2 linked regions of the Homo sapiens genome follow. The protein of the gene in region 2 purifies or fractionates together with the protein of the main gene of each other region. This does not show direct contact. Each region holds a gene or a part of one and is shown on either strand. Other genes may lie near its edges.

Region 1 (3,748 bases), on a different chromosome or scaffold from region 2:
CAGTGTTTGGCGTCTGTGACAAATGTCTTTTCTTTTTTACATCAGTGAATGACTTACTGGTGCCCGTTAGTTGCAGGACCTTGTGCTGGGTGCTGTGGGTCCCGCTACTACCAATAATTAACACAGAAGACTTAAGTCCCTTATGAGAGCATGATGGTGACTTGTGGTTAGCCTCCCTTCTGAGCACTGTCTGATTAATCACTTTCCACTCTCCGGTGACTTGGTTCTTCAAGCTAGTGAATGGTAGTACATCTATAGTGGTAAGGCTCAGGTGGTCAGGGTGCAGGCCTTCTTTCCTGTGATGGCGTCCCAGACAGATGACCGTGAGCTAGTGTGGAGGTGCCCACGCCCAGGGTGCTCCCTCCATGCTGATGTGGCTCACGGAGTGACTGCCGCTGAAGTGGTCTGTGAGCAGCAGGATGTCACAGCTCACTGGGCCTTGACCTTTAGAAGCTGTGTGTTCCTGCTGAGGCCAAGATGACATACTACCCAGCAGCGTTCACAAAAAGTCCTTAGCTGCTGAAATGTCATTGGGGGCACATAGTTGCAAACCATCCTCCATCTATGGGTGCTTCTTATTTATTTACTAATTTTATTTTATTTTATTTTATTTTATTTTTTTGAGACAGAGTCTCACTCTGTCGCCCAAGCTGGAGTGCAGTGGCCGGCGCGGTGTCGGCTCACTGCAAGCTCTGCCTCCCGGGTTCATGCCATTCTCCCACGTCAGTCTCCCGAGTAGCTGGGACTGCAGGTGCCCACCACCATGCCTGGCTAATTTTTTGTATTTTTAGTAGAGATGGGGTTTCACCGTGTTAGCCAGGATGGTCTCGATCTCTTGACCTCGTGATCCGCCCGCCTTGGCTTCCCAAAGTGCTGGGATTACAGGTGTGAGCCACTGTGCCCGGCCTATTTTTTTTTTAGAGACAGGATCTTGCTCTGTTGCCCAGGCTGGAGTGCAGTGGGGTGCGATTATAGCTCACTGCAGCCTTGAACTCCTGGGTCAAGTGATCCTCTTGCCTCAGTCTTCCAAGTAGCTGAGACTACAGGCATACGCTACCATACCCGGCTAATTAAGAACTGTTTTTTGGTAGAGATTGGGTCTCACTATGTTGCCCAGGTTAGTCTTGAACTCTTGGGCTCAAGGGATCCTCCAGCCTCAGCCTCCTGAGTAGCTGGGACTACAGGTGCGTGACACCACGCCTGGCTCTGTGGATCCTTCGTGCTTCCAGCCGTGAGCAGCTGTTGGCTGGTAAAGTGTGTGCAATGTGAGGAAGTTGGTGTGGGGGACAGATTCCACATAGACAAGGGACAGCAGTGTGGAGTGGTGGCTGGGGGATAGATCCCCCTTCAGTTGGTCCTGGGTTTTAGGGTTTTATTTGTTTGCTGTGACTTGTTCAGCACTCTAGGCTTTTGAACCCAACATGCTTCTCTAAAGCCCTCTCTCCAGCCCCTTTTAGCCAGGACCACTTACATCATGGCAGGCTGTTGTTTCAGTCACCTGCATGGCCGGGTTGACAGGCATAGCCAGAGCTCCTGGGCTCCTGTAGGACGTGGCAGGAAGGACCATAGACCATGGCAGGGGTTCTGTTGGAGCCCTTATCTACTCTCTTTTGCACACCCCTTGCAGGCTTGTAGCAGCAGCAGCAGTAGTAGCAGCAAATTCTATAGTTCCCTGATGTCTAAGAGGGTGGGTGGTTTGGTTTTCAGCTTAAGGAGTGAAGTCACATGAACTATAGCTTCCTTAGCTAAAAATTGTATTTGCATTTCCTTTTATTCTGTACCTTCTCTGTTCCTTGAAGTACCCATTTACTATTTGCTATCTGAATCCTCATCAGAGAGGCTTTTCAGAGTCAAGTGCAGCATTCTGACAGAGCATTTTAAGATTGTCTCCAGTGACGGTGTCCGAGCGCCTCTGTGGGCCTGGGTGGTGTCCTTGATCCCTCGGTCGATGGGGCTGAAGGTGACCCATGATTATCTCTCTTTGAGGCGTGTGTTGAGAGTCGGAGGAACACCCTGCAGTGTGTTCTCATGTGTCGGAAGGTGTACCACGCGTGACGTGATGCAGCAGGTAGAAAACAGTGGCCGTGGGCCTGGAGGACGTGGGGTTCAGAAGACGCCCACCACCTTCGGGGCTGTAGCGCACCTTCCTTTCTCTCTGAGTGTTGCTGGGGCTGGTGGAGCGATTGTCTCCATCTTACTTGTGAGGGTCCAGCCCTCACTCAGGTTTGTACACATAGTCAGGACTAGAGGCAGCTTTCCTTCCTCCGGTCTTCCTGCCTTCCCTGTCCCTCAGCTCTGCAGCTGAGGTGGGAGGTGCTCAAGCTGCCAGCCTCCGTGATGTTTGTGCAGTGAGACTTGTGGGGAGTGGCATTCCCATGTCCTGGGCATCCCTTCTTAGCATGAGAGGCATTCCTGTAGTTGTAAAAGTTTCCAGAAATTGCTTTAAAGTAGAACTATGCTTGTGGCCAAAATATATCTTGATTGAACATTTAAACTGAGTTTCTTGCTTTGAGTTTGAGCGGGAGGGCGTCATCGTGAGTCTTGTCTTGAGAAAACCTCTGGTCGTGTTTCATGGACCCACCTTTCCTAATCCTTGTCCTCTTAATGGTTTCAACAGGACAGATTGATTCACTTTGGAGCTGTAAGTACTGATGTATTAGGGTGCAGCGCTCATTGTTCCTTGACGCAGAGTCCCAAAATGAATATCCAAGAGCAGGGTTTCCCCTTGGACCTCGGAGCAAGTTTCACCGAAGATGCTCCCCGACCCCCAGTGCCTGGTGAGGAGGGAGAACTGGTGTCCACAGACCCGAGGCCCGCCAGCTACAGTTTCTGCTCCGGGAAAGGTGTTGGCATTAAAGGTGAGACTTCGACGGCCACTCCGAGGCGCTCGGATCTGGACCTGGGGTATGAGCCTGAGGGCAGTGCCTCCCCCACCCCACCATACTTGAAGTGGGCTGAGTCACTGCATTCCCTGCTGGATGACCAAGATGGGATAAGCCTGTTCAGGACTTTCCTGAAGCAGGAGGGCTGTGCCGACTTGCTGGACTTCTGGTTTGCCTGCACTGGCTTCAGGAAGCTGGAGCCCTGTGACTCGAACGAGGAGAAGAGGCTGAAGCTGGCGAGAGCCATCTACCGAAAGTACATTCTTGATAACAATGGCATCGTGTCCCGGCAGACCAAGCCAGCCACCAAGAGCTTCATAAAGGGCTGCATCATGAAGCAGCTGATCGATCCTGCCATGTTTGACCAGGCCCAGACCGAAATCCAGGCCACTATGGAGGAAAACACCTATCCCTCCTTCCTTAAGTCTGATATTTATTTGGAATATACGAGGACAGGCTCGGAGAGCCCCAAAGTCTGTAGTGACCAGAGCTCTGGGTCAGGGACAGGGAAGGGCATATCTGGATACCTGCCGACCTTAAATGAAGATGAGGAATGGAAGTGTGACCAGGACATGGATGAGGACGATGGCAGAGACGCTGCTCCCCCCGGAAGACTCCCTCAGAAGCTGCTCCTGGAGACAGCTGCCCCGAGGGTCTCCTCCAGTAGACGGTACAGCGAAGGCAGAGAGTTCAGGTGAGTCCGACGCCAGGCGTCCACTTTCTGTACTCACCTCCGAGAGCTGGAGAACAAGCCAGGGAAAGGTGCTGATGAGGCGGGCGTTAACCCACACCGGATGTCCTGCTGCCGCTGGGGTTGAATTTTGGTTCTGTTCTTATTTGTGATACTTTTGCATTTGTCATTACTT
Region 2 (3,748 bases):
AGGAAAGTTTATCCGTTTCAGTTTAGGATTTGGTGGGTGTGGCAACCCAGGAAGACCTGAGAAATAACCACTGTTTGGTTTGAATGATACATTTGACTGCCATTAAAATAGCATATAATTATAGCCTAAATGTAGACTTAATTTTTAACAGATTTATCTGAACTTTCAAAATTTGTACCGTTGGGTGTAACGATCTAAAACTATCTTATGGGAGATGTTACAGCAGTTTTCAAATCATTGAGCTAATATGAAATCTGGACTTTTTAAAACCCCTCTGATCTAACCTGGTTACGCAGTTAACATTGTATCTGGGAAAGGGGCTTTCATTTTACCTAGTCTCCAGAAGTCAATGGAATTATTCTGTAAATAGTTCAGGCTTTTGTCTAAATATGTGAAGACTGACAAGACTATCTCCGTGAGAATCCGCACCCCCCCACCCCAACCTCCCCCCTCCTTAATCATGTTTCACAAAGTAAATCTATAGACGTTCCTCCTGGGTTTTGGGAGATTCCCCATCCTAAACAAACCAGCTGGAGGAAAGGAAAGGAAGGAAGAAATAAACGCAACACAGAAGTTCTCCTCAGTTGACAAAAGGTCAAAAATCATTAACGTGTAAATGTTGCTTTTTCCATCCCAAAGCACCTTCTCACGTAGAGTCCAGGGACTAGGAGGACTCACAACGCAGCGATGGGCAGCCAGGCCCTGCAGGAGTGGGGACAGAGGGAACCCGGCCGGTGGCCCGACCCTGCAGGGAAGAAGGACGTGCGGCGAGAAGCATCGGATTCGGGGAGGGCCGGGACCTGGCCGAGGGTGACATTACCGAGCACTTCCTGGCACAGCGCTGGTCCCCTCCCCAAACGCGCTATATGTGGTTCTGTACGGGACTGCCTTTCCCAAAGACAGCCAAGGAAAAACTAAAGATCGACGGGGACACCCGCCTCCCTTCCTCGCCCCAACGGTTTCTCAGAGGCTGTGGGGACTTGGTGAGGGTAGGGGGTAGTTGTCCCAAATCAGCAGCTTCAGGATGTAAGGTATTACAGAAAACTTTGAAGTTTTGTTATCTGTAGCACAGGGACAGGGGTGGGACAATAGAGAAGGAATGTTTTCTTTTCAAAAGAAAACACAAACAAAACTTTATTTTTCTGGTCCGCGGCAGCCTGTCTGCTGAACGTTGACTTGCTTTCGCTTTGCAGCAGGCGACGGTCCCGGGCGCCACCTGCGCGTCGGTGGGAGGCTGGTCCACGCCCGGGTCCCCCGACGCCCACTGCAAAGGGCAGTGGGAATGACAGACTGTAAACCCTCTCGCCTGCGTCCCCTTCAAGCACCAGAAACCCAAGTTGGAACTAATTCTTTCTTTCGGAAGGTGCAACTCCCCTCCCGCGAGCTCCGCGGTGCCGGGCCGAGATTGCCGAGAGGAAGCGGCGCAGCGCTGCCGCCAAGGCTCCTCCTGTCGCCGGTGCGGCCGGGACTACCTGGCGGCGCGGCGCGTGCAGCGCGCAGAGTCCCGGGAGCCCACGCCTCCGCCTCCGCCCCCGCCCCCTCCGCCTCCCAGTCCACCTCGCCCGCCCGCCCTCTCGCCCGGCGGAGAGCACAGCCCACTCCCTCCCACCTGCGGCCGCCGGGCCGCCCTCCACCCACACCTCTGCCGCAGGCCGGACCCAGTGCGCCCGCCCGTCGGTCAGTCCAGGCCAGGCGCCCGGCGGGCCGCGCTCACGCAGTTGGCGCAGGAGGCCTTACGCTGGCGGCGCAGTGCCCGCCCCCTGCGCTCTCCCCGCCCCCTCCCTCCCTCGCAGGGGCCGAGCGAATGTAGCCCGCGAGAGAAAATGGCGGCGGCGGCGGGGAATCGCGCCTCGTCGTCGGGATTCCCGGGCGCCAGGGCTACGAGCCCTGAGGCAGGCGGCGGCGGAGGAGCCCTCAAGGCGAGCAGCGCGCCCGCGGCTGCCGCGGGACTGCTGCGGGAGGCGGGCAGCGGGGGCCGCGAGCGGGCGGACTGGCGGCGGCGGCAGCTGCGCAAAGTGCGGAGTGTGGAGCTGGACCAGCTGCCTGAGCAGCCGCTCTTCCTTGCCGCCTCACCGCCGGCCTCCTCGACTTCCCCGTCGCCGGAGCCCGCGGACGCAGCGGGGAGTGGGACCGGCTTCCAGCCTGTGGCGGTGCCGCCGCCCCACGGAGCCGCGAGCCGCGGCGGCGCCCACCTTACCGAGTCGGTGGCGGCGCCGGACAGCGGCGCCTCGAGTCCCGCAGCGGCCGAGCCCGGGGAGAAGCGGGCGCCCGCCGCCGAGCCGTCTCCTGCAGCGGCCCCCGCCGGGTGAGCAGCACGGCCGGGGTCGCGGCGGGGACTTGGAGAGCGGGCAGAGGGCAATGAATGAACCCCGGGCACCATGCACGGCGTCCCGGGGTTCAGCGCAGCGAGGCTACGCGCCGCTCGCCGGGACCTACGCCCCTGAGCACCCCCCGACCCCTTCGGAGTCGGGCGGCGCCCCGGACCCAGCCTGGGGGACCGGACGGGGACGTGCGGAAGAGTTTGTTATTGTTTGCAGACATGTGACAGGCGTGCGAGCCTCTCTGCGGGGAACCGTTGCGAAAAGGTGTAGGGGGCCACGGCTGGCTTTGTGGGACTCCTGGAATCGGGGCTCTCCGAGGAGCCCGGGGGCGGGGCACGGCCCTGCGGCGGCGCCCCCGGACGGGTGTCCCCGGGGCAAAGGCACTGGGGGGCGAGGCCCGAGCCTGAGGCGGGCGGTGGTCGGAAGAGGGGCGGGGTGGGTGAGAAGCCCGAGGTCGGGTGGGAGACTGAGAGGACCGAAGAGAAAGTAGCAGGTCCCAGCGGCCGTGACAGGCAGAGCCCCTCGGCCCGCCCGGGACTCGAGTCCCTAGGCAGATACCGCGGGCTGGGCCCGGACGCAGGCGGCGCGCCCCCAGCGCCGGCCGCAGGGCTCCAGGAGGACGGCTCGGTAACGCCTGTCAAAGCCGTGCGGCGGGAGGCTGCACACTCGCGGAGGCTTGCAGTCTTTTAGGAAGTGCGGTTTGTCTAATTGCAGCCCCCAAGGGGCTTTGAGTGTTCCTGGGAATGCGAACTGCACTGCTAAGTCACTTGAGTGACTTCTGTTTGGAGTTTGAATTTGGCCTTTGAAGTTTGCATTTGGCGGAGTGGTGTAAGAGCCAGGACCGGATGTGTCAGCCATTCAGTTTCAAAGCAGTGGTGACTGCTCCCCGCAGCCCCTCCGGCTTGGCCCGGGGACTGCGGCGCGGGTGCAGTGCTTCCTGCTCGGTGCCCTGGCGCGGGCCGCCCGCTGAATTCCAGGGGCCGCAGTGCGGTGGGCTTCGGCTCAGATGCGTCTTCTGGTGCATATGAAGTACAGTATGTGTAAGGTAATTTAGACCAGCGGTTTATTGGCCTCGCCCATTTTTGGCTACTGGAAATTTTTATGTTAAAGGAAATTCTTTTAAGTGTGACAGCTACATCCTTGTTTGTTTGTTTTTTAAAAACCTGATTAACGTATGCAAAGTACAAAGTCTTGATGGGTATTTTGAGTTGCTGGAAATGTTTTTGTGATAGTCCCTCGTGGCCCTGTAGAATTCCCTGACCTTTATTATGAGAAGAAAGCGTGTCATTTTGTGAGACGAATTTGACAGTAGGAGTCCTTGGTTTGGATTCATTATCTAAAGTGATCTGGCATTTTTTGTGCATTTGATTATTTGCTTAAAATCACGATCCATTTAGTATTTGGAAGTCCCCTTCCTCTCCCCAAGA

What was found.
Region 1: the proteins of MAP3K1 (region 2) and AXIN1 purify together in Homo sapiens (affinity purification with western blotting; 5 studies listed by BioGRID and IntAct, with this or other methods). This does not show direct contact.

Annotation. Positions count from the first base shown.
Region 1 is NC_000016.10:345,976-349,723, reverse strand, and holds part of AXIN1 (axin-1), read left to right. Parts: intron 1-2,617; coding exon of another isoform or gene 2,618-2,698; coding exon 2,699-3,576; intron 3,577-3,748. UniProt on the Homo sapiens protein: Component of the beta-catenin destruction complex required for regulating CTNNB1 levels through phosphorylation and ubiquitination, and modulating Wnt-signaling.
Region 2 is NC_000005.10:56,813,751-56,817,498, forward strand, and holds the start of MAP3K1 (mitogen-activated protein kinase kinase kinase 1), read left to right. Parts: upstream 1-1,798; 5' UTR 1,799-1,823; coding exon 1,824-2,305; intron 2,306-3,177; exon of another isoform or gene 3,178-3,366; intron 3,367-3,748. UniProt on the Homo sapiens protein: Component of a protein kinase signal transduction cascade. Activates the ERK and JNK kinase pathways by phosphorylation of MAP2K1 and MAP2K4. May phosphorylate the MAPK8/JNK1 kinase.